Regions from separate parts of the Homo sapiens genome. Here region 2 is linked to region 1. The links come from fine-mapping of genetic effects on gene expression. A gene starts in region 1. The other region holds a variant in brackets. All regions are shown on one strand. Distances are between the middles of the regions.

Region 1 (16,840 bases):
TTGGGAGCCAGATTGCTTGAGTCCAGGAGTTCAAAACCAGCCTGGGCAATATGGCAAAACCCATTCTCCACTAAAAATACAAAAATTAGCTGGGCAAAGTGGCGTGTGCCTGTAGTCCCTGCCCAGCTACTTGGGAGGCTGAGGCTACAGTGAACCATAATTGGTGCTACGTGCACTTCAGACTGGCAACAGAGTGAGACCCTGTCTCAAAAAAAAAAAAAAAAAAAGAGCCAGGTGAGGTGGCTCACGGCCTGTAATCCCAGCACTTTGGGAGGCCAAGGCAGGTGGATCACCTAAGGTCAGGAGTTCGAGACCAGCCTGGCCAAAATGGTGAAACCCTGTCTCTACTAAAAGTACAAAAATTAACTGGGTGTGGTGGTGGGCGCCTGTAATCCCAGCTAGTCAGGAGGCTGAGGCAGGAGAAAGGCTTGAACCTGGGAGGTGGAGGTTGCAGTGAGCCAAGATCGCGACACTATATTCCAGCCTGGGTGACAGAGGGAGACTCTCTCCAAAAAAAAAAAAAAAAAGTTGAGATTCTTAACCCAGTAATCCTATTTCTTATCTCTTCTAAAAATGTAATCCAATTTGTGAATAAATATTTTTTGTTTGTTTGTTTTTGTTTTGTTTTTTTTGAGACAGAGTCTCACTCCATAGCCCAACCAAGCTGGAGTGCAGTGGCGTAATCTCAGCTCACTGCAACCTCCACCTCCAGGGCTCAAGCGATTCTTGTGCCTCAGCCTCCTAAGTATCTGGTACTACAGGCGCACCACCACCAAGCCCAGCTAATTTTTTGTATTTTAGTAGAGATGGGGTTTTACCATATTGCCCACGGTGGTCTCGAACTCCTGAACTCAGGTGATCAGCCCGCCTCAGCCTCCCAAAGTGCTGGAATTACAGGCGTGAGCCACAATGCCCAGCCAGAATAAGTATTTTTATCAAAGTGAAAAAATACAGATAAAGGACCAAGTGGGCATTAAAATTACTGTACACAAGTAGAAGTAATTGTATATAGTCATTATGACTTTGAAACATTTTAACATCAAGAAAAAATGCTTGCAATATAATGGTAAGCAGAATTGCGTATACAAAATTGCATGATCATAAAAGCAGACAAACAAATACTAGAAAGAAGTATACCAAAATAGTAATTGTCTCTGGGTGACAGCATTATGATTCATTTTCTTTATAATTTTCTATGTTCTACAAATTTTCCACAATCATTATTTATTTATTTACTTGTTTATTTTGCTGCCTTTGTTGTTTGAGACAGGGTCGTTGTCGCCCAGGCTGGAATACAGTGGCATGATCACAGCCGACCACACCCTCAAACTCCTGGCTCAAGCAATCCTCCCTCCTCAGCTTCCGAAGTGGCTGGGACTACAGGTGTGCACCACTATGCCCAGCTAATTTTTTCTATTTTTGTGGAGACAAGGTCTCACTATGTTGCTTAGGCTTGTCTCAAACTCCTGGGGCTCAAGCCATCTGCCCAACTCAGCCTCCCAAAGTGTTGGGATTACAGGCATGAGACACCATGTCCAGCCCATTACATATTTATTTTTAAAAAATCACTCCAACTTTCAAACTTCTTCTACTAGGCATAATTACCTTATGAAAGAAACAAACACATTAGCTGAGTGTGGTGGCATAGTCCCAGCTAATCCAGACGCTGAGACAGAAGGATCACTTGAACCCAGGGGTTCCAGGCTGCAGTGAGCTATGATCATGCCACAATACTCCAGCCTCAGCAACAGAGTAGGACCCTGTCTCAAAAAAAGAAAAAAGCAAACATATTTAAAAGGCTATTTGAGGGACAGGTGCGATGACTCATGCCTGTAATCCCAGCACTTTGGGAGGCCGAGGAGGGTAAATCACCTGAGGTCAGGAGTTCGAGACCAGCCTGGCCAACATGGCGAAACCCCGTCTCTACTAAAAATACAAAAATTAGCTGGGCATGGTGGCGTGCGCCTGTAATCCCAGCTACTCAGCAGGCTGAGGCACGAGAATGACTTGAACCCGTGAGGCGGAGGTTGCAGTGAGCCGAGATCGTGCCACTGCACTCCAGTCTGGGCAGCAGAGTGAGACTGTCTCAAAAAAAAAAAAAAGCTTTTTGAATGGTGACTTGTAAGATCCTTCCCTATTAGTCTATAAACTGTAAAAGACAGGGAACCATCTTATATTTGTGTTCCCTTTGCCTATCACTCTGTGCTCAGTAAATGATAACTGAATGAGTCATCTTCAGTAATGAATAATCTTATTTTTTTAAAAAAGTAAAAAAATAAATGAATGAATACTCGTATTTATTATCCTGCCTGTTGTTGATGCATAGAGAATATCAAAGAGATAAGTTTTCCTCTGAGAATGAATTTTTTGAAATTTGGTATGTAATGGTGTGAGATTCACCCATTATAATTCTCTCTAAGTAATAACCTATAAACAAAGGACCATGGAGTTTTGGAAAAAGTGAAACTCCAATGATACTGTGCCCCAGAAGACGGGAAAATGTATTAATAAAAGGGAATCGGCCGGGCGCAGTGGCTCACGCCTGTAATTCCAGCACTTTGGGAGACCGAGGTGGGTGGATCACGAGGTCAGGAGATCAAGACCATCCTGGCCAACATGGTGAAACCCCGTCTCAACTAAAAATACAAAAATTAGCTGGGCGTGGTGACCTGCGCCTGTAGTCCCAGCTACTCGGGAGGCTGAGGCAGGAGAATCAATTGAACCCGGGATGCAGAGGTTGCAGTGAGCCGAGATCGCGCCACTGCACTCCAGCCTGGGCGATCTCAAAAAAAAAAAAAAAAAAGAAGAAGAAGAAGGGAATGGCTCAGTGGAGTTAAGAAAAGGAGAATTAAGTAGTAAAAATGGGTGAGGGCATTCATAGTTCTTCCCAGAAAAGTTTTCTCCCCAAACGACATAAATATTTGACGTCTTGGTAGTTTCATCCCTATTTTTATCTCCTTTCTTGAAATTTTTACAGACTACAATAATGCTCTATGATCTGGAACTACTTTGAAATTTTTACAGACTATAATAATGACCTATGATCTAGAGCTACACTTTAATATGATAGCCACTAGTCACACATGGCTACTGACCACTTGAAACATGAGTAGTCCAACTTGAGATGTGCTAAGTGTTGAATACACACTGAATTTTGAAGACTTAGTATGAAAAACAGAATGTGACATAATTCATTAATAACTGTTTAATATTAATTCCATGTTGAAATGATAATATTTTTATATACTGGGCTAAATAAAATATTAAAATTGGTTTAATAATTTCTTTTTGCATTTTAAATGAGGTTACTAGAAAATGTAAAACTACATGTGGCTTGCATTATATTTCTATTGGACAGTGCTGATGTAGAACCATGGAGTCTTTCTCCTTTACTGACCTCTGTCTTGGAGCAGACCTCAATAATCTTCTAATGTGGTCTGGTCCTGCTTACCTTGGCTCCCTAAGTTTGCCTTTGCATGGAAGTGGGGTAGCCATTTAAATGTGAAGGACCCTCTGTTGGGCTGCTTAATTTCCATCCTGCTTCGTTAACTTTTTAAAAATTTTGTACCTAAAGAACTTGTTTTCATATACTGTACTGGAAATATCTGGAAATATATGTTCATTGTCAAAGAATCAGAAAATACTGACAGCAAAAAGAACAAAATAAAAGCACTCATAAAGCCCACTATCCAGAGACAATCACTAATGATATTTTGGCATATATACTTCCTGAAAGTTTCAATATGCAAATATATATCAAGGCACACAGATATAAATATTTTAGCAAAATGGGATCATACTGTATATATTATTTTCTAATCTATTTTCTTTTTTTACCCAATTAAAAAAAAAAGACAAACATCTTCCCATGTCAATAAATATATTTTTCCAATTTTGTTTGTCATAGTTTTACCCAAAAGTCACCCTAGAAATGAGGCCTTCTCTGACCACTCAATTTAAAATTGAACTCTTACGTGTGTATATATACACACACATTCCCCTCAATGAATTATTTTTCTTTATGGTATTCATCGCCTTCTCACATATTACATAATTGTTAAGTTTTCTGTTTCTTTTACTATAATATAAGCAACATGAGAACAGAGATTTGCATCTGTCTGTTCACTCTACCTCAGAGCCTGTAACTGTGCTTAGCACACAGATGATGCTTGAATATTTGCTGCATAAATGACTGACTGAATAAACTACACAGCATTTCATTATGGTGTATTTTCTGCTGAGTTTCAAAATAGTCGATTTATTTCTGTATTTCTCCTGTATCTACATTTAAGGCAAATTTTATTTTATTTTATTTTATTTTTTATTTTTATTTTTTTTGAGACGGAGTCTCACTCTGTCGCCAGTCTGGAGTGCAGTGGCGCCATCTCGGCTCCCTGCAACCTCCGTCTCCCGGGTTCAATCGATTCTCCTGCCTCAGCCTCCCAAGTAGCTGGGACTACAGGGACTGCGCCACCACACCCAACTAATTTTTGTATTTTTAGTAGAGACGGGGTTTCACTGTGTTAGCCAGGACCGTCACGATCTCCTGACCTTGTGATCCTGACCTCGTGATCCGCCCGCCTCGGCCTCACAAAGTGCTGGGATTACAGGCGTGAGCCACCGCGCCCAGCCTTAAAGCAGCTTTTAAAGTCTTCAAAGGATTTGCTATTAAGTTACAACACAGAGGGCCGGGCGCGGTGGCTTACGCCTGTAATCCCAGCACATTGGGAGGCCGAGGCGGGCGGATCACGAGGTCAGGAGATGGTAACCATCCTGGCTAACACGGTGAAACCCCGTCTCTACTAAAAATACAAAAAATTAGCCGGGCGTGGTGGCGGGCGCCTGTAGTCCCAGCTACTCGGGAGGCTGAGGCAAGAGAATGGAGTGAACCCGGGAGGTGGAGGTTGCAGTGAACCGAGATCGCGCCACTGCACTCCAGCCTGGGCAACACAGCGAGATTCCATCTCAAAATAAATAAATAAATAAAAATTTAAAAAAGTAACAACACAGAATATCTACAATCTATCCATTTACTAATAATTGTAACTAAGTGTTGCCCAACTTTATTGAAGGTGTCATTTGTCCTAACACACTTAGGACCTTCTAATAGATTCAGAAGGTCCTAAGTGTGTTCTACTAGGTTCATCACAATTTAGCCCAAATATGCTGCTCTATGATGATTTGGTTTAATACAGGATTAAATTTTGGGCTATCTAAAGCGATAGATGGATTATATTTCCTTCATACAGTTCTCCACCAGTGTTATTTCTCGCTTAGGACCTTCTGAATCTCCATTTGGTGTTTTTAGAAGAAACAGTGGTCAAAACTCAACATCATATTTGCTTTTAGATGTCACAGAAGGTGGTGTCCACTATATCATTGTCTTCTTAGAAAAGCCACAAAATTTTTTTTGCCCCTCTTGAGTAACTGATAGGCTTTTATAAATCCTAAGAGGAATGTGAATTTCATTCTGTATTTTAATTTGCTTTAGCCACCAAGAAGCTCACAGCTGAATTCACAGCCTAGCTTTAGTATTTGGAAATGCTACTTATAGAATGTTTTTCTGTGCATTAATTTTCCTTTTGCCGCCATCTTATTTCAATTTTCCCTTTACCCCTACTTATTTTTTTTACTTAACCTTGACTTGAAATTCAACCCAACTTAAAAAATTTATGTTTTCCTATTATTTTGTGTATTATAGTAAGATATTGCAAATATTTTTTGGAACTAGGCAAATGCAAATCAATCATTAAATCAATCACACAACAGTGGAGATAAATACACCAGCTATCATACTTGATGATATTAACTATTAAGAACATCTAATTTCCTTTCCCATAGTGCCATATTCACTAAGCCACTCTCTGATTTTAATATGGTTTCCCCTGTAGACTTTTGTATAAAGAATAGAAAGAGAATGCTGGATTCCTCTAAACAATTATATTTCTTGCAATTTAACACATAAACCCAAGTACCAGTCTATTGCACTGGATTACAGAAAGGCTAGAAATTCCCACCTGAAATTTAAAATTAGGATCACTGTTTCAGTTAACATGATTTTGATGTGGTCCAAGATTAGAGGTAGAGAAGGATGAGCTGAATATTCTTAGAAATTCCATCCAGTTTATCAATTTGCATTAAAATGGCTGAAACCAAATGTCTCACAGGACCAGCAAAGGAAGCAGGGACTCCCATTTTTGCCAGACTCCGCCTTGCCTTATTTTTTGTTTGTTTGTTGTTTGAGATAGAGTCTCCCTCTGTCACCCAGGCTGGAGTACAGTGGCTCGATCTTGGCTCACTGCAAACTCCACCTTCTAGGTTCAAGTGATCCTCATGCCTCAGCCTCCTGAGTAGCTGGGATTACAGGCACGCACCACCATGCCCGGCTAATTTTTGTATTTTTAGTAGAGACAGGGTTTCCCCATATTGGCCAGGCTGGTCTCGAACTCCTGACCTCAAGTGATCTGCCCGCCTCGGCCTCCCAAAGTGCTGGGATTAGAGGTGTGAGCCACCGCACCTGGCCCAGACCTATTTTTAAGTCTGAGGTAGGCAGGAAGGCACCATGGAGAAATGTTCATTATTATCACACACTTCTGATTAGAGCCTGAACCACAACTGGGGGCTTGATTACTATCACACAAAGATTTTTGGTAGGTTTTCTTTGTTTCTCATTTGGTTATTGTTAGTGGCAGTCCCAGAGTACCATATACACACACCCTCCCAAGGCTCAGGTTGAAATAGAAGGAATTCTTGGCTTTGACCATTTGGCTGGTATAGGAGTGGGGTGAGGATGGGGGAAAGACTCTTTTTTTCTTAATGATCCCAACACTTTCTCAAATCCCTGTTATTCTAATTCTTGCCTTTAACAAGGTCATGAAGAGATGATTGGATCAAGGAAATGTCCTGACCCCAGGCTATACAGTGTAGAAGTCACAAACCCTGTTCAGTCCTTCTCATTAAACTTCTGGGCTTTATTTATTGTTTTTAATACGATCATTACATATTACACAAAAATAAAAGTCAAATGAACTTGGTATTTATAAATTATTAAATAAAAATACAGGAATATAGATTTATATTTATAGAGCTTTCTTTTCTTCTAAACTAACCAAATCTGTTCTGCCGTTTTATGATTTTAAAAAAGTAAAATAGTGTTTGTGTGCCCTAGAATAAGTGGGGAGTGGGATTAATAATCGCAGGACCGAGTTGCCCTACTTCCGCTCCTTCCTTGGCCTAAACAAAGTCCCTATTTGTCCCTTTGGGCTCTGGAGAGCAAGAAACCCCTCTCCTCCTACTTAATCTTTGAAAAATGGCAATTACATTTATTTCCCTTATTTTTTAAAAAATGAAATGGATTTAAAAATTGGGAACCATACTCAGCCTTCTTGGCCAAGAGCTAATCCCAAGGAACTATATGGCTCTAGAAGAGAGTCCCTAGTTTTCCCTGACAGAAGAGTCTCTGGGGTTTCCCTTCAAGCTAAGAAGGGCAGGACAGGTCAAAATTGCCCACTGTGGTCCCATCTAAGCTATGCTTCTGGGAATCCAGACCAAGCCCTTTACCCTTTCAGAAAACAGCCTCTCTTTCCACCCAGGTGTCAAGGCTTCAGAGCAGGGCATTTTGGTAACCTGGCCATGGTCCCTGCAGCTCCTCTTGGCTAAAGGTCCCGGGGAATGCTAACAGGGATATGTGTCCTGTGGTAGAGGGTAGGGTGAAGAGTGTGCTCCATACCTGGGGAAGGAAGCACAGACTCCAATTTGGAGCCGATGGTCTAGTCAGTGGTTTTCCAACTTTTTTTCAGCAGCAAACCCCTTAATGCAAATAAAATCTTACCCTGAACCCCAATATGTAAGACAGCTACAAGGGGAGCTGTTCTGTTTGAGGGCAAATTGCCCAGCCTGCTCAGCTCCCCACCCCCTTCATCTCCCCAAGGACTCCTGAGGCAACCCCTAGGAAACTTCAGGGCTCTGCCAAGCAGTTTGAAAACCACTGGCCTAGTTTGTCCTGAGCAAGTCAGAGACCCCCCACCCCAACTGCTTGCCACAAGCTGGCTCTGAGTTTCTGGTGTCAGCATACTCACAACAAGACCAAGTGGCACATGCAGCCTACCACCTCCCCTAGAAATACCATGAAAAAGTGCAGCCCTCTCTCAAAAGCAGAAGTCTGGACTCAACACCTGAGGCCAATTTGGTCCCACGTTCTGGCGAGCACAACTACGTTGCCACATTCTAGGACCAAGTGAAAATCTCCAAGAAGAGTCAACCATGGTCTAGCTAAGGTGATCAGTGCTCAGGACCACAGGCAGGGTTCTAGAGCACTGTGTCAGAAAGTTAGCATTGGAGAGCAGCAATCTTAGCACCTTGGAAAGTGCAGCAGTGAGGTCTGGCTCAGGGCATGCATCTGGAGTGAATAATTTCTTCCTCAAAAGAAAAAGCCATAATCTGAAGCTGTTCTAGAGGACTGCGAGTTCCAAAGTTAACATCCTCAGACTCTGAGGTACAGACAAGTAACACCCATGCAAACAGTGTGGCTTCAAATAAATCATAAATGCTTCTAGGTCATGGTAGGTACTCTAGAACCCATATGCCTGGCCCCTGATAAAGCCGAACCAAAGCCCACAACACAGCATAGGCCAGTCCTGGAGTACCCATCACCCTCACACCCATGGGATTCAGATCTGAAATGGTCATCTCAAGGCATCAACAGTCTCACTGAGACACAGTGTGGGACCCAGACTGTATTCTAGATCAGCACTTATGCCCACAACCTCAAAAGGAAAATTAGTTAGGGCCCCAATTTAGAGTTTCAGTTTGGGTACAGAGGTCCCAGAGATTGGAAACACTTTAGGCACCATTGTGCCTGAGTGGGAGAGGAGGGTGGCAGGCAGGTCCGGCTACCTAAGCCTCCACCCATCCAGGCTCAACAGCCCTGCCCTTCTATCAGAGCCCAGGAGGCAGCAGCAAGTGCATAATGCACAAGGAAGGGGGATGATGAAGGAACAAGGCCAGCTGCAGAACTGCTCTTCTCTCCAAAGCCTTGCCAATCACTTTCTGGAAAGAAGCAGCAGAGCCCTCGGTCTGGATACAATGTTTCTCTCTAAGCCTTGAGGCATCAGGACAAGGGCAGGGGAAAGGAGGGGTTGGGAGGAGGGACAGAGAACTGCCCCTAGTTCTTGCCATTGCAAGAGGGAATGTTTTCTCCTTGAGGAATCCCATCACCACCAGATTTGCCAGGCAGCCCAGCATGCACACCAGCATGCGTGCACATGCACACGCGTGTCCAAGCAGCCCACTGTTAACAGCCACCTCTCCCTATCACCTGAGAACCCCTAAGCTTCCATTCCAAAGGGATGTGCCTTCTGCGTTCCCTAAATCCCACTCATCTAATGGAATACAGCTGCTTATGTAAGTCCACCTTCCTCAGGGCTGTGAAGCAAGTTCCAGGTCGTTTCATGTGCCCACACCTATAGGCGTGATCCCTCCCACCTCCCCCAGCCCTGGAACGACTACATCTCCTGTGCCCCTAAACTTGCCAAAACATTCCCCTCCCCTCTGTGTCCTGCTCACTCTTCCAATCGCCTACCTGGCCTACTCAGCTCCCTCACACACTACCCTTTCTCTGCCCATCCTGTTCCATGCCCACCCATCCACCAACTCCACTTCTTCCAAGGGCATTTCTCTGTTCTGTTCCTGCTCTCCTGGCCCCCAGCCACACCTAGCCCCACCTGGCCCTGGACTTTCACTTGCTAGCAAAAAAGGCCCCTACAGTTACCAGGGCCCCCAGTGCCACGGCCCCCGTCAGCACTGTCCTCACTGATGCCCAGTTCCCCTCCCGCAGACGCCGCGCCTCCTCCAGGGCCCCGTCCCCGTATAGAGCTGTGAACTCCGCCTGTGGGAGAGAAGGGAAGCAGGAGAGAAAGAAGGAGAAAGGGATATCAGGAGAGGAAAGAGTGGAGAGAAGAGGAGAGGAAGAGTTCCAGTTCCATCCACTGCGAGCACTACCCCATACCCAGCTCCTCTCTGGCCAAAGCTCTTCTCCCTGCAAGCCCCTCTGATCCCCCCAGGTGCACCCCCACCCTGAGAGACTGGTTCATCTGCCCACTCTGCCTCCAGTGAATTCCATCCTTTCCTTGGCGAAAAATTCTGCTCAGAACTAGCATCCTTTGCCAAGGCTTGCCTGACCACCACCCATCCCTGGTCCTCCCCACCTCCCACGCCATGACTCAGATGTAAAAAGTCCCTGACAACATTCCCCTGCAGGCACTCCTTGGGTGTGTATTCTGTCCTCTGCTTGGGACCATGAGCCCATCCAGTGTTGACTGCATGGCAGCCCTGGAGTGCAGAGTCCAGGCATCTCTCAATCTAATTCCATCCAGACGGGGAGACTCAGCCCCGTACCTCATTCCCAACATAGCTGCCTCAGCCTCCAATCAGAGCCCCCATCTTCCCCCTGGAGACCAGCTTTGCAGAAGGATGTGCAGAGCGGCAATTGAGAAGCTTCTTACCCAGCCCCCACTGCTGTGGATCCAGTCAGCCAGCTGCGTCTCCAGGTAGGCCACCATCCACTCCTGCACTTGTCCCACCAGTGGTTCCATCTCCTTGTTGACACTCTCAGCACACAGTGCAGCCCCAAAGACAAAGAAGGCTACAAGGCGGCCCCAGTTGGGGCCCCCTTGAAAAAGTTCATCGGAGACCTGGGTGAAGCGTTGTTGGGCTGAGCCTGGGGTCACATGCAGCTGAGCCGCCAGATCAGAGAAGGTGCGCCGGAAGCGGGTCTCGAACTCATCTCCAGCTGCCCGCATGGCTTGGTGCAGCGGGTCAGCTGCTGGGCCCTCCCCGGGGCCAGCTCCACAGACATAACCCTTCTGCCTCAGCTTATAACCTACAAAGTCTGCCACCAGAGCCCGTGTGTCTGGGGCCGAGGCTGGGGTCGCCATCCGGGCGGCTATAAGAGGCAAGGATGAAAGACTGGCATGAATATATGAAGAGAGAATCAGAAGGAGCACTTCTGGTTTGACCAACCCAGTGAGATGAGGAGGAGAGAGGAAATGCTCAGGACTCACTGGACAGGGAGAGGCAAGAACAAGGGAATTAAGTCATGATATGAGACTAGGCTGTGAGTGGCTGGCCATTACATTCCTAATATGCCAAATTAAATGTAAAACAAGTAAATTTTCTGTTTAGGATACTTTAGATTCTTTTCACAATAAGACAACGTCAGCTCAATGACACCCCTACAACACCCCCACCCCCGGGTCTCCTTAGTCCACACCTTCTTGGCTAGAGGAAGGGTCTTAGGACCTCCCCAAATGCAAGATGTAAAGATGTTGGCAGAGACACAAGATGAGGGGGAGCAGATGGGCTGAAGAGAAAGGTGGGAGACGCAATGGGTTACTCCAGACAGAGAAAGGAAGGAGACACTCACCCAGCCGGGATGGCAGCTCTTAAGACACAGCACTGGTGGCAAGGAGCCCCCAGCTGGGGCCTTTCATCCTCCTGGCCAGCGTGGAGCCCTGGAAAGGGGAGGGGGAGATCAGAACCAGGAGGGGAAGGCCAGGGATCAGGTTCTGGCCTGGGAAGGGCTAGGGTTGCAGCTCTGGGCCTAGGCCCCTGCCCCCAACGCTCTACCAGCTGTGTGGCCGAATCCATGTTTAATGACTGTCCTCCCGGGAAACCCAAGGCCAAGGGCTTCCTGCCGACACCATCTCTATTCCCGGTTCCCCCTAGTGCAGCCCAAAGGCCCAGCTCCTCCCTTACCCCCACCTCAGCCAGTCTCCAACCCCGCCCGCCTGCCAGGTTAGGGATCTCACGGGTCAGGCCGCTGCCGGGATCCGGGCCGTTTCCTGGTGCAGGAGCTGGGAGGGAGGGAGAGAGGGAGGAAGGGAGGGAAGGAAGGAGGGAGGAGAAAGGGGGGGGCAGAGGGAGGGCCCGGCGCCGGGTGATGATGGGGCCCAGAGATGCGTCCAGAGAGAGGGGCGGGGCTGGGACGCAGGCCTGCAAAGGGCCACTACTCAGGAAGAGGGAGGGCTGCTGAAGGCAAAGAAGGGCTGGCTGAGAGGGCACGGTGGGCTGGGCTGGGCTGGGCTCCTGAGCCTCTAGGCTGCCCAGAGAAATATGCCGGACTTCGGGACATCTCGGGGCAAATTTAGCATTTTCAGGAGGTTTCCGATGTTCCATGCACTTGTTGAACTTTTCCAGCCCTGAACTGTGTGCCTGGAAAACAGGAGCAGTTCCCATTAAGCTGGGAACCGTCTACCAGGTGCCTTACCCTTATGGGGCTAGCAGACACCACATAGACACCAAACCTTTCCCATCTTTTCTCCAGGACCTTTAACCCAGTGTTCTCTTTGTGGGCTGGGCTTCAGCCAGGCATTAGGGAGCCAGGACTTGGATCACAAGCAGTTTCTCTCGGTACTTTTCTTTAATTCATCTTCTTTTGTAATTAGATTGATTTTAGTGGGGTTTTTTTCTTTTTCTTTTTTTTACCCAACACACAAACTCATTCTCATTATGAAAAAAATCAAACAATAAAGACGTGCGGAGTAATAAAATACAGGTTCTCAAACACACACACACATACACACCCAATTCCACTTCCCTCCCTGCAGGTTGCCAGTGTTAAGCTTGATGTTTATCCTTCCAGATTACATATATATGGGGCCATTATTTATACATGGCAGTATATTTATACAGGGCAGGTCACAGGCGTGAAGCAGTCTGACCATAGCTGATCCACATGAGGGCACTCACAGCCAGCCCCCTGGGCTCTTGGATCTGGCACTTTTTTAAAGAGTGCCCCAACCAAAGGCCAGAAAGAGGCAACCTAATTCTCCTATTCTGCTAGCTCCCTTTGCTTCTACCTCCAATCCAAGCCTCTGTATTACCATCTTCCCTTATGGTCACTGGAGAAGCAAGGTCTTTTCTGCAGCAATAACAGTAACAACTAGCTGGGTTCGGTGGCTCATACCTGTAATCCCAACACTTTGGGAGGCCAAGGCGGGTGGATCACTTGAGGCCAGGAGTTCGAGACCAGCCTGACCAACATGGCAAAACCCCATCTCTACTAAAAATACAAAAATTAGCCAGACGTAAAATACAAAAATTAGCCAGCCTGTAATCCCAGCTGCTCAGGAGGCTGAGGCATGAGAATCACTTGAACCCAGGAGGCTGAGATCATGCCACTGCACTCCAGACTGGGTGATAGAACGAGACTCTATCTCAAAAAAAAAAAAAGGTAAAAACTAACATATTTTGAGGAGTTATTAGATGCTGTGCTTTTTTTACATGTGTATTTTTTCCTCTCACCAGTCCTTATGCTGTTTTATCCTCATTCTATGAATGAGGAAATTGAGGTTTGGAGAGGTTAAGTGATTTTCCCAAAGCCATAGGCTGATATGTAAGAAGCTAGCACAGCCATCTCATGCTGTAACTTTGACACTATCGCTTCAAGATCACCTCTTGCCTTCACATAGTCAATATGGTTCTCATAGTCTGAATCCACACCATTTACAAGTCCATACTCAATTCTCTCCTCTATTCTAAACACACAGCCTATTACACTCCTTTATGGCTGTATCCTTTCAACCATCCTCATTTCATTTTTGCTCTTAGCCTGATCATTCTGGCTGCCACCAGCAAGGTTGCCCTCTTCTTTAGAGAATAACCTAGTCCAAGTCTTCATTTGCACTCCTGGTTTATTTGTTTGTTTGTGATACAAGGTTCTCACTCCATGGCCTAAACTGGAGTGCAGTGGTACAAGCACAGTTCACTTCAGCTTCCACCGTCTAGGCTCAAGCAATCTTCCCACTTCAGCCTCCCTGGTAGCTGGGACTAGAGGTGTACTGCACCATGCTTGGTTAAATTCATTTTTTATAGAGATAGGGATCTCATTATGTTGCCCAGACTGATCTCAAACTCCTGGGCCAGCTTGATTGTAACATAAATTAATGTATGATTTATTAGACATTAATTTATATGCATTATATATATTATATTGTATATGCATATACAATATATACATTGTATATATTGTATCACATATAATGATACGAAGAGAATACATCCATGCATTCTATATACGTGTAAAATTTAAAAAGTCAATATTGCTTTAAAAATGAGTCCTAGCTAACTAGTATTGCTACAGTCAATACTAGTGCGAATGCATGTAAACAGGAATGAATTGTATAATAATAAGATAACATGTGTCTCATGGTTTATTTTCAACTTAGTCACTTGTGGTTTTACAGTTAAACTATCCTGCTGCTTTAAATTTAGAGACTTCATTTCTACTCTAATATTCCCTCTTTTAACACTCTGAGGATGTTAACTATTATTGTTAAATGTTTTAATCTTATATAACCAAGCGGGTAAGAGCGTGGACTCTAGAGCTAAACTGTTTAGGTCCTAATCCCACCTCCCCAATTATTAACTATGTGACCCTGGGTAAGAGTCCTCTCCCCTCTCTCCCTCAATTCTCTCATCTTTAAACTAGACATAATAGTCTCTATTCCTCTGATGGTTGTATTACATGGGTTAGTATTTGTAAAACCCTTACAACAGTACCTAGCACATTGTAAGTGCTATATTAGATCAGTAGGAAAGTTAGAAAAAAACTAAAAACAACTTCACTTTTTTTTTTCACTAATGTTAAAAAAAAAAAATGAAAGGGGAAAAAGCCAGCTCTGCCCTTCTTGGAAGCTCCCACTGGACCTATAATTCCACAGTCCCAACTCCAAGAGAGTTGTTGGGTGCTTGTTCATTCAATAATTTGAGTGCCTACCATATACTAAAACTCACCATGAATCAGACAAAGCCCCTGCCCTCAAAGGGCTTACACTTGGATTAGAAATCAGAACTCCACCACTTTTTTACAGATAAGAACACTGAGTTCAGAGTATGGCTCTGAGTTCAGGGGTGGCTCACACCTGTAATCCCAGCACTTTGGGAGGCCGAGGCGGGCAGATCACCTGAGATCAGGAGTTCAAGACCAGCCTGGCCAAGATGGTGAAACCCCGTGTCTACTAAAAATACAAAAATTAGCCGGGCGTGGTGGTGGACGCCTGTAATCCCAGCTACTCAGGAGGCTGAGGCAGGAAAACCGCTTGAACCGGGGAGGCAGAAGTTGCAGTGAGCCGAGATCACGCCACTGCACTCCAGCCTGGGCGACAGAGCGAGACTCCATCTCACACTCACACACACACACACACACACACACACACGAGAACACTGACTCCAGAGAAGTTATGCCTTGCTTGCTCAAGGTCACTAGAAGCTAGGTCTTCCTGCAGTTCTCAGTTCGGGTGCCATATTCTCACCTTCTATTTGAAAGACTCTACCTAGCTTTCATGACCTTTCCTTCTTTGCACGCACCACCACCCCCTGCCCAAACCAGGAGCCTAGGTTTCAGAAAAGAAAACAGTGAACCCCAAAGATAAAGTCACATGCTGGGCGTTTTGAACCTTCCCCTGCAAGAAAATGAAAGGTTATTTTTTCTTCCCGGCGTTAACCTTTCCTGTGCTGTGCCGGAAAAGTTGAGGACTTTTTACATTTTATTATTATTATTATTGTAGAGATCAGGGGTCTCACTATGACGCCCAGGCTGGTCTTGAACTCCAGGCTTCAAGCGATCCTCCCACCTCGGCCTCCCAAAGTGCTGGGATTTGAGGCGTGAGCCATCGCGTCCCGTCCGTGGATGTTTTTTTTAAAAGGTTGAGTAGCTTCACTCGGGACCGCAAAGGTGGAGTCCCCGCCCCCTGGTGCAGCAGCGAAGACAAGCGGAGCCACCTGTCAGAGGGCTGTGGGCGGGGGCGCCCGGGCCGTGAGGGCCTTGGAACCGGAGGGTGAGTGCAGTTGAGCGCACGCTCAGAGCAGACCGCTAGCAGGAGGCAGGATGTGATAGTCTAAGACCCTGGAAGCTGACGGCCAGAGGGAGGGAAGGGTGGTCACAGAGGAGAGGCAAAGCAACGGGAGGTGGAGGATCCTGGAGGTGTCTGCAAGGAGAATACACAGCAGCGAGGGGCTGCAGAAGCGGACCCAGCGACTTCTGCGCTGACGCGGGGCGGGCGGGAGAGAGGAAGAGAGGGGAGCGCGGTGGCGCTGCGAGCTGGCCCCGCCGGGGAAGGGGCTGCCATGTCCCGTGAGCGGCCCCCGGGCACCGACATTCCCCGCAACCTGAGCTTCATCGCCGCGCTAACGGAGCGCGCCTACTACCGTAGCCAGCGGCCCAGCCTCGAGGAGGAGCCGGAGGAGGAGCCAGGCGAGGGCGGGACGCGGTTCGGGGCCCGATCCCGCGCTCACGCACCGAGTCGGGGCCGCCGGGCCCGATCTGCACCAGCCGGAGGCGGCGGGGCCCGGGCGCCCCGCAGCCGTAGCCCAGACACCCGCAAGAGAGTGCGTTTCGCCGACGCACTGGGGTTGGAGCTGGCTGTCGTGCGCCGCTTCCGTCCCGGTGAGCTGCCCCGGGTGCCCCGCCACGTGCAGATCCAATTGCAGAGGGACGCCCTCCGCCACTTCGCGCCCTGCCAGCCCCGCGCCCGCGGCCTCCAGGTAGGCGGCGGGGGCACCTCCCCTCCTGGGGACCTCCTCCAGTCGGCCGCAGCGGGCTTGTGGGAGTGGATTTGCCAAAGAGCACCCATCTCCATCCCATCCCTGGGCTTGCGCCTGCCCATCCCTTTTGGGGACCCCATCTGCGAGTGGCTCTAGGCCACCCTGGCAGCTGGGCCGCACTCTGCCGGCCTGGACGCCGGGGTCGGCCTCTGATTGGTCCAGTGCCTTGCTCTGACACCGCCCCCTGTCTCTCCCCTCTCTCCGCCCTGGGCTCCCTCCTCCCGCTTCTTCTTTCCCC
Region 2 (9,490 bases), 70 kb before region 1:
TTTCCATCTTCCTTGGAATATTGTCATGCTCCTACGTAAACATGTTGCTAAAGAGCTCCAGGGTAATACTGCAGACCTTTTGCTATTTGAAGTCTTTTTTCAGAGTTTAGTAATCTTAGATACAATGTCTAGAATGTATGCACTTTCATAGGAAAAGGGAAAGCAGGTACAAAACGATCAATAGTCTAAAAGTGGGCTTGTTGTTTTAAAAAAAAAATGACCACCTTTAATTCTTTCTGGAGAAAGGGTATGAAATCAGGTAACAAAGTGTAGTATATATTTGATCATTTTTCTCTCTCCATGTCTAGAACACCAGCCTCATCAACCAGAAGAAGAAGATGGAGTCGGATCTGACCCAGCTCCAGTCGGAAGTGGAGGAGGCAGTGCAGGAGTGCAGAAACGCCGAGGAGAAGGCCAAGAAGGCCATCACGGATGTAAGTGACCGCCCACCTTCCGCCTCCCCTAAAGACAGAAACAAGGCCTTGGGTCCAGGCCAGGCCACTGTGCTGTAACACCAAGCCAACTCTGCAGTTCTGTGGATTTGAGGGCCTGATGGGAGAAAGGAGATCCTTGGGGGGCAAAAGGCCCCGGCCCCTGGCCCATGTTCCTTGCCACCTCTCTCCTGCACACAGGCCGCCATGATGGCAGAGGAGCTGAAGAAGGAGCAGGACACCAGCGCCCACCTGGAGCGCATGAAGAAGAACATGGAGCAGACCATTAAGGACCTGCAGCACCGGCTGGACGAGGCCGAGCAGATCGCCCTCAAGGGAGGCAAGAAGCAGCTGCAGAAGCTGGAAGCGCGGGTGCGGGAGCTGGAGGGTGAGCTGGAGGCCGAGCAGAAGCGCAACGCAGAGTCGGTGAAGGGCATGAGGAAGAGCGAGCGGCGCATCAAGGAGCTCACCTACCAGGTGCGGCGGACGCCAGACACCAGGAGTAGATGTGGAAGTTTCTTCTCTGGCCCCACTGCCCCGCCCTCACAGGGCTCCTCTCACCTCCTCCTTGAGATGCTGTTGGTAGATTTAACGTTCTTCTCACGCTCTGCAGTCAGTTTGACTTGAGTCTATGAGTTTTTCCAGCAAATGAAGAATCTACTTCTACTTCCTGAAAACTCTTCTAACTAGTCTTTCCCCAGGTTTCTTTCTTTCTTTTTTTTTTTTTTTAATAACTCTAAGTGCTACCATGAAGACTTCAGAACAGTTCAAAGAATCCTTCCACCTTCGACTGTGGGGATAAGAGTCAGGGGAGGGGAAAAGACCCGGAAATCTTCCATAGAACTTCTGGCACACAAAGAGAAGGCCACAGAGAAAGAGGACCCTAGAATGCTCTAAAACCTCCACTTGCATAGCTGAGAGCTGTGCCCTTGGCCCGTTATTTTCAGTGTACCTGGGAAGAAAAGGCCAAGGAGACGAGGGTGTCAGTCCATTTGATAGATGGATACCAGAGGCACAAGAAAGAGGTTACAGATACAGAACCACAGAGTGATTTGTGGACAGAAGTAGAAATGGCATCCTGGCACATACAATGATAAAGAGATAGGAATGATCGAGTGACGTTGGAGCCAGTGATCCCGATGCCTGAATTCTGGCCCAGTACAATATATTAGAATGTAGAATAATCTGGATTATGATAATACCCCCTTCTTTCTGCATTCTTTTTCTGGTCAAGAACTACTGGCCAAGAGAACCTATGTAAGTCCAGGTTGGAGCTTTATCCACCATACTGGAGCTGGAACAGACCTGGTGCTTTTATATTACCACATTAGGGAATTCCATTAGGTTCTGAGCCCCTCCCCCTACTTCTAGCTTTATGACTTCAGCCTTCATTGCTCTGTGGATCCCTGACTGACAACCTTGCATTGCCCCTTTGACCTACGATAGAGTCAGAGAATCTTCCCCACCACCTCTTTGACCTGGATCATTGCAGGGAGGGGCAGCAAAGGCAAGGGGAGAAGAGTAAAATGATGGAGGAGGGAAAGGTGATTGCATTTGCTCCCCCTCCAAACCAGCTTCTCCCACCCTCCCACCCCCAGACAGAGGAAGACAAAAAGAACCTGCTGCGGCTACAGGACCTGGTGGACAAGCTGCAACTGAAGGTCAAGGCCTACAAGCGCCAGGCCGAGGAGGCGGTGAGTTCAGAGCTTTCTTCCCTTTCTCATCAACACACCTACTATTTGTGAGAACCAATGAATATCTCCTACAGAGGGGCCTGGACAAAGAGTTTGCTATAAACTTTAACTCTCAAACATTTGTTTGACACATCTGGTATGCTCAGAGCTGTCAGGTGTTCTGAATTAACAAAGGCACCACCTACAAGCTGCTTACAATTCAGATACCATAACCCAACAGAAGGCAGTGTAGATGCTAGTGCAGGACGTGGGGCAGCCGAAGCTGAAGGCAGGAAGGTGGCGGTGGAATTGGGCCTAGAAGGGGACCCAGCTAGCCACAGGGCAGTGGGGAAGACATCTGGGTGGATGTGAGTTGCTGATTAGCATGCCTGCACAGGAAGCTGGGGTCCGGGACAGGTGCAGCAAAACAGGATTCTGAAGGGGCCCAGATCGGGCAGCATGGGATTTGTCTGGGGCAGTGGATGGCCGTGAAGGACTCTGAGTGCTGGACATGTTTGAGAAGAGTGCAAGGCAGTTGCAGGATACCCTTGGGAAGGCTGTTGCAGGAATATGCATGAGGTATGGGTGCCTCAGGGACAGGGAGCTGGAACCTCAGGTTGAGAGGCTGAGAATCCCATAGCCCATCTCCAGCTCATTCACCCATCCCCACTGTCCCACCACAGGAGGAGCAAGCCAACACCAACCTGTCCAAGTTCCGCAAGGTGCAGCATGAGCTGGATGAGGCAGAGGAGCGGGCGGACATCGCTGAGTCCCAGGTCAACAAGCTTCGAGCCAAGAGCCGTGACATTGGTGCCAAGGTGGGTCCCTCCCCTGGGCTTCACTAGTCACTTCCACATTAGCATGCCCCCTGATATGGGTGCCCTTCAGAGTGGGCACTGCTTGCCCTATATGTAGGCAGTTCTGAGGGTCCCATAGCTTACATAACCTGAGAATCCACTCTCCTGCTCAAAACAGCCCCCCACTGACTGGAACTTCTGCAGAGATCCCCAGTTCCATCCCCCTAAACCACAAGTGCCTCTAACGTGGGACCACAGGATCCCTGGGGCCCTGCCTCTCCCTCCAAGGGCATCTCCCTTAGGCCTCTGAAAGCCCCAGGGATTTGTCCCCACACACTTCTCCCTCTTGCCAGCTGCCCCCTCACACCTCTTATTCTTTTTGCAGCAAAAAATGCACGATGAGGAGTGACACTGCCTCGGGAACCTCACTCTTGCCAACCTGTAATAAATATGAGTGCCAAACTCTGCCTGAGCCCATCTGTCCTTCCTGCCAGCTGTCCATCCTGGATCAGGGCAGTAGGGGGCCTGAGAGGAGGGAGGCCCCCAGCCCCTGTATCAGAGCTGCCAGAGCCAAGGCATCCCATATCCACAAGGAAGGAGACCGAGGTGCAGAGGAGTGAGGTGTTCTGCCTGACGTGGACAGCTGTGAGTCCCAGTTCTGCTCAGTCAACCACACAAGGGTGGAGAGGGAGAAATTTCAAAAGTGAAGAAAACAATGGCATCAAAATGGTGAGCCAGTCCAAGATGCTACGAGATAGAATTTTGGTGCCGAAGTTGAAGCCACTCTCCACCTACCCCACCCCTGAGGCTGCAATGATTAAAGGTGTCCTAGGACACCCATTCTTTCTGAAATGAATTTTCCACCAATGCCAGAAAAGGCTCAGAGCTGGCTGAGAATTAAGGTATGGGAAAGGAGATGGGAGAGATTCCATTCTAGTCAGCCCCTAGGAAGTAACTCCCAGGGAGCCCCCTCCCTGTCTTCCCCAGGGGTCTCCCCCTGCCTCCTATGATTCAGCACCTCACCGTGAGGGCATCTTGAGACTCTGGGGCCAATCAACACTGAGCCCAAACCAATATGCCATGAGGACCAAGCCTGGGCATTGCTCATTTCATGTTGGTTCTCACACAGACACAGATGGCACAGGTGCCTGTACAGGGAAACACTGTGGTCACATTTCTGCTCTCTCTAAGCTCCTACTGGGGACAGTCTGGCCTGGATCACACAGCTGCTTGTGGGACAGGCCCGGTCCTGACCCCGTTCTGCACAAAGCAAATCCCCACTCCCCACTGGGCTTTGCAGCCAGGCTCTGCTGACCGCCTCCTTAACCGTTCACCTGGCACCCCATCTCCCTGACTCCCCAAGTGGAGCCTCTTCTATCCCTCCTCTGAGACCATGAGAATGGACTGTGCATAAAGCCCTGAGAAATGTGAGCAGTGACCAGAGAAACACAAAATCCTGTTGGTTCTAGCCCAGGAGAGGCTGCCAGTTCTGATGGTGAGCCAGGACACAAGGATAGGAGAACAGGAAGCAGGAGGCAGGAAAAAGACCAAGAGAGAGGAGTGGCTGCCACCAAGGAAGCAGAGCGCTCTGACCAGAGTTCAAGATCCAGGGTTCGGGCAGGACTTGGGAGCTGGGGCCTGCAGCTGGAAGGAGCGCTCCAGAAGAAGGATTGTATCTCAGGGCGGGAACACACACACATCAGCGACAGGAGATAGCACGTCAGCTGGGATGGAGCTGCTGAGCCAGGCCATGCTGGGCTCCTCGGGCTGGGCAGGAACGTCTGGCTGCACATCTGTCTGTCTCGGCCCAGCAGGGCTGACTCCCGGGCTGTGGCAGTGTCTGCTCCAAACTCCCCTGAGCCTTCCCATAGCATTCACTGTGGGGAGCTCTTGACCAGCTTGTCTCTTTCCCAGCCTGTGAGTGCTAAAGGGCAGGCCCCCCGTCACCTCTGAGGCCCTGGCACCCAGCACAGTGTGCATGGGAGATGCTCAGGAAATGTGTGCTGAGGAGCTGGCAAGCTGGGAGGGTGGACCCGCAGTGGAGGGAAGAGTTGGCCATTCTTTTCTGAGCTACAAGGAGGCTCAGTACAGTATCCAGAACACTCGCTTAGGTGTCAGAAGAGCTGCGTTCTGGCCCTAGCTCTGTCACAAATGAGTTCACCTCCCCTGGCTGGGCCTGTTTTCTCTTATGTGAAATGAGGGCATTGGACCAGCTGATAATCAACGGCTCTCCCAGCATTCGCATTTTGGGAAATCTCTCCCTCCTCTGATACCTCAGGCTGCCCTCTCCCTGCGTCCTGTGGGCCAAGTCTTCCCCACACCACAAGGGGGAGCTCTGCACACGCCCCAGGCGAGCGCCTGGCCTCCAGCCCACTAACCTGCGGGAACAGGTGTGGTGGTGCATGCATGCTCCCATGAGGAAGGCTGTGCCTTCTCAGACACAGAACTCCAGATGCCCAGCCACCAGGCACACCACAAAGTGGCCGTGCACACAGAGGTGTAGCGTAGAAGTTTTGTGTTGGAGGATGTCTTCAGCTTCTTCTGGCTAGCCCCCACATCCTCACTGCTCAGACCCAGTCCCAGAGACAGACCACGACCTGCTCTGGCAACATTCCCATGAATACTCCTTGACATTCCTGACCTGCCTAATTTCTGGGGAAGAAAGAGACTCACCAGTAGAATTTGAATATTTTAATTTGGGAATGACTTAGAGGTCCAGATTCCTCCCCTCCACCCCCCCTCCCCCAATAAGTTCCCCTCCTCTGGCCAGAGCTTCATGAGAAGCCACATCCTGGAGCACCAGGCTCCACAGATAAGTCCCCAGTGACGTCTCAGGCCAGACTGCTGTGTAGGGCTGGGGTGGGGTTTGGCGGGCTGGGGGCTAGTGAATCCCAAGGAGACGTGTCTGGGCTCCACTGTCCTCTCTGGCTGGCTGGGCCTAGGAGCCA[G/C]GTAGCCCCAGAGTCACTGCTGGTCCCCTGTGAGGATAGAGCCAGGTAGGGACCCACATCAGGATGGGTAGCTAGGGTGGGGAGGGCATCTCCTCTCCACAGAGCACAGGCACTCACCCTGGCTGGCCCCGGGTGCCATCTCAGTCCGGTAGATCTTGAAGGCATCATAGGCAAAGATGGAAACCAGGATGATGCCAAAAACCTGTGGGAGTGGGAGTGGGGATGGCAAAACAGAGGCTATAGGGCCATTGGGTTAAGGTATAGGGTGAGGTGCAAGCCAGAACCCCAAGTCCTGGCTGTGGCTTCTGATACAGAAAGTGTGCAAGCACCAGCCTGAGCTCTTGAGGGGCTAAGGAGTCCTGCAGGGCTGAACTCACAAAAGCAGCAATGGCAGCTCCGTCCCGGGAGGTCACAGCTGCAAAGGAGACCACCAGGAAGATGATGATGGCACTGACACAGCGCAGGAAGTCCTGGGGGCCAGGGGTGCAGGGTTAACAGGACCTCAGAAGGCAGGGGGCGTTACCCTGAAGTTTTCCAGGCTAGCCAGCAGCCCGACCCTGAGGGATTCTGAACCCCTCCATAGGATACCCCTCACACAATATGAAGCACATTCAAGAGACAGAGCGCTCACACTGCTACCCAGGGAGTGGAAGCAGATGAACCAGAGCAACCAGGACCAGAAGCCAGGCGCTGGGGCTGGAACCCAGGGGACAGCGGCTGGAGTATGCCAGCCCGGGGGGGTCAAGCCAGGCCAGGGCTGGGGCTGGACCTTTGCTGAGTGGGAGAGTAGATCTAGCGGATGTGGTCCTCCTGATTGCCCGTGGCCCTGCAGCTGTGAAATCAGTGTGAGTCAAAGCACACCTTTGAGTGCAGGGCATAGCATGGGACAAAGCCCAGCTGTGGTGTGGAAATGGAAAGAAGCTCGGGGAGGAAAGGAAAATGCATCATTTAGAGGAGAGGGAAGGGCCCCAAACTGGGCTAGGGGTCAGGGTTCCTCACCAGACAGGGCCAGTTAATTCGGTCGAAGCGCTGGTAGTACTGGGTGGCATAGAGGAAGAGGAAGGCAAGTGTGATGAAGAACTCCAGTAGCGCCGCGGCCATGTAGGCAGAGATGGAGGCCGTGAAGCAGATGAAGATGATGAGGGTCAGGGCCTGCAGGACCGAGCATGTGGAACATGCCAAGAAGGGGACACAGGCAGGGGCCAGGGCTTTGCCTTCCCCTCCTTGGAAGCTCCCCTAGGCTGGCACCTACTACCTGTCCTTGGAGGGGAGGAAGGACTCTGGCACATCTCCCTATCCCCTGGTGTCAGGAGCCACCGTTGCAGGGCATTTGCCGGTCAAGGGCAGTCTCCGGCCTCCCACTCTGCTCACCCAGCAACCCCAGCAGTCTGGCCAAGCCATATGGCTCCCAGGAGCACTATCCCACAGTAATTCATAGGTACAGTGTGAATGCCAGCCCCTGGAGTTGTGCCCACAGAGACCCGACTCCACAGGGACCAAGAGGAGCCCCCTGCCTCATAATGCTTTCCCCACCCCCAGATGCCTGAAAGCCCCCTGACAAGGACCAGAGCCTTTGATTCCATGCCAAGAGAGAAGGCAGATGCTGCCCAGTGGTTTCTGGGAGCCCCTTTAGCTCTGATGACCTAGGGTGGCATACGTGCAGAGGCCTTAACTCTACACTGTGGTCTTGCTAAGTAACCAGGGGAAGATCCTTTCCTGAGAAGAGATGTTTCTGGGCAGCAGACCACAGATAAAGTGCAGTTGCAGGAAGTCTGCCCTTTTTGATAGTTAGACTTCTTGGACGTGCTGAGAAGTGGCCATGTTAGAGGCTGTCATTGCCCCTGTCCCATCCCTATGTCTCAAGCTTCCTCAATGTCCCAAAAAGTCACCCTGTCTAACTGCAGTCCTTCCTGCTGCAACTGAAACCTGCTGTAAATGTCTCCGGGTGGAGAGGCAGCAAGAAGGCAGAGTAGGAGACGAAGAAGGGGCAGCTGCGGGCAGGAGAGGTGTCCAGAGGGCTTGGGGAAGGAGGCTACTGAAGGGTGAGCTGGGGGCTGGCATAAGGCTGGCCAGGAGCCGGGGGTCAGGGAGATGGAGGCACCAGGTTGGGAGGCAGCTGTTACCAGCTCGGTTTCCAGCAGGATGCCCTTGTGGGAGGTGAGGAAGGCCTTGTCCACCGCGAAGCCCTGGAGCTCTGCAACTACCCCCTCCTCAGGGTGCCGGTCCCGGCGATCTCGAGCACTGAGCATCTTCGTAGGGCCCACCAACACAGCCCCCTACTGCCAAAAGCCCAGCAAGAGAAACAGAAATCTGGCAGGATGGGGAAACAGACAGGAGCAAGAAGGCACTTCGAGAAACCTGAAAGTGAAGCAGGAGGCTTGCCCACAGGGCCCCGGGAGAGAAGGCAGGCGCTGGGGGCCTTGCCCAGATGGGCCCTCACCCAGCTGCCCAGAGTGCCTCTGCTGCTGCCTGCACCAGCCCCCTAGAGACCCATGGGGAGGGGCAGAGAGGAAGGAGGCTCTAATCCCTCCCCTTGCTTAGAGCCCAACCCAGCCTGGAATAGAGAAGGAAGGGGAGAGGAGGAGGTCCGAAAAGAAACTGGGAGGAGCTGGGATGTGAGTAGAGGAACAGGGGCAGGACTGGGAGCCCCCAGGGACCTAAGCCTGAAGACATTTGTGTCCCCCTTCTCTAACCTTAACCCTCTTGTTTGGCCGGTCCTTTCTCCCATTTCCTTTTAGGGAGGGTGTGAGCTGGAGCCCAGCCCAGGCAGCACCCCCAGGACCAAGCTGCAGCAGCCAGGACTGGAGGACAAAGGCGGATTGTTGGGGGACAAGGGGGCGCTCTGTGCCTGCTGCAATGCCTCAATGGGCCTCTGTCTCTCCAGCATGCCGGGAGCGCGGCCTAGCCCCCACCCTGGTGTTTGGGATGGGCCAGGGAGACAGAGATGGGAGAGGACGGGAGGGTGCAGCGGAAACTCTGGAGGGCGGAGAGAGCTGGCAGGGTGGACAGAGGTGAGGGCCAATGGTGGAAAGGAGAAGGGACAGGCTGGGAGACCGCGAGATGTTCAGGCACCACGGATGCCAAATACAGATTAGGCCATTTTTAAATAAAGATATTTATTTGGATAAATCTCTATACATTCAATAACAGCTTCCTCCTCAGAATCATCCATGTCAAAAGACTAGTAACTACACTAGAATGCACCCAAAGTAGATGCTCACTGAGTGATGAGTAAACAAACAAATAAAACCAGGGGCTCTTTCTTCTCCAGCAAGGGGGAAATATCTAGAAAGTGCCTGTGCTGGGCCAGGGTAGCAGGGGATGGGAAAAGAGGAAGAGACAGGAGTGGTGGCCTCCAGAAATGGGCAGAACTTTGAAAACCTTTCCTGAGAGAAAATGACAGGACACCAGCTTCCGGCGGCCCTAAGCAGCAGCTGCTCTTTTCAAAATGTGCAGAAGTGCAGGCTTTCCCCAAAGCCCCCCATCCTGTCCCGGGATCCTGCTGCTCCAGACAGCACTTCACAGGGGCCAAGCATCTGGGCATCCTGGCCCTTCATGGCAAGTGGTTGTACACCTGGCTCCAGGTTTCCCAAAAAGGGACCAGCCTCCAGCAGGTCCGGCTAGCCCATCACACGGGGCCG

Direction of the effects. Alleles are on the strand shown, and positions count from the first base shown. SD is a standard deviation of normalised expression in the study named.
In carriers of allele G in region 2, the expression in monocytes after interferon gamma of the gene that starts at base 11,869 in region 1 tends to be higher than with C alone (large effect, 1.2 SD a copy in Fairfax 2014).

What was found.
Region 2: its variant is fine-mapped to the expression of BCL2L2 in monocytes after interferon gamma (Fairfax 2014, PIP 0.95).

The regions. Positions count from the first base shown.
Region 1 is chr14:23,301,862-23,318,701 of GRCh38, reverse strand. It overlaps BCL2L2 (BCL2 like 2), which reads right to left and starts at 11,869. Exons shown (of 4, transcript NM_004050.5): 1 at 11,808-11,869; 2 at 11,423-11,510; 3 at 10,503-10,942; 4 at 6,951-9,886. The coding sequence starts at 10,934. The coding sequence ends at 9,737. It overlaps BCL2L2-PABPN1 (BCL2L2-PABPN1 readthrough), which reads right to left and starts at 11,869. Exons shown (of 8, transcript NM_001387346.1): 1 at 11,808-11,869; 2 at 11,423-11,510; 3 at 10,503-10,942. The coding sequence starts at 10,934. PPP1R3E (protein phosphatase 1 regulatory subunit 3E) reads left to right here and starts at 15,843. Exons shown (of 5, transcript NM_001276318.2): 1 at 15,843-16,542. The coding sequence starts at 16,126. RefSeq lists an enhancer at 10,177-11,010 and silencers at 16,057-16,566, 16,647-16,706, 16,717-16,840.
Region 2 is chr14:23,375,860-23,385,349 of GRCh38, reverse strand. IL25 (interleukin 25) reads right to left here. Exons shown (of 3, transcript NM_172314.2): 3 at 8,947-9,490. The coding sequence ends at 9,470. It overlaps CMTM5 (CKLF like MARVEL transmembrane domain containing 5), which reads right to left and starts at 8,304. Exons shown (of 6, transcript NM_001288746.2): 1 at 7,973-8,304; 2 at 6,849-7,001; 3 at 6,481-6,681; 4 at 6,227-6,319; 5 at 5,967-6,051; 6 at 5,578-5,876. The coding sequence starts at 8,098. The coding sequence ends at 5,863. It overlaps MYH6 (myosin heavy chain 6), which reads left to right. Exons shown (of 39, transcript NM_002471.4): 35 at 309-434; 36 at 633-908; 37 at 2,030-2,125; 38 at 2,788-2,922; 39 at 3,287-3,363. The coding sequence ends at 3,310. RefSeq lists an enhancer at 5,286-5,355. The variant G/C (reference allele first, on the strand shown) is at 5,850.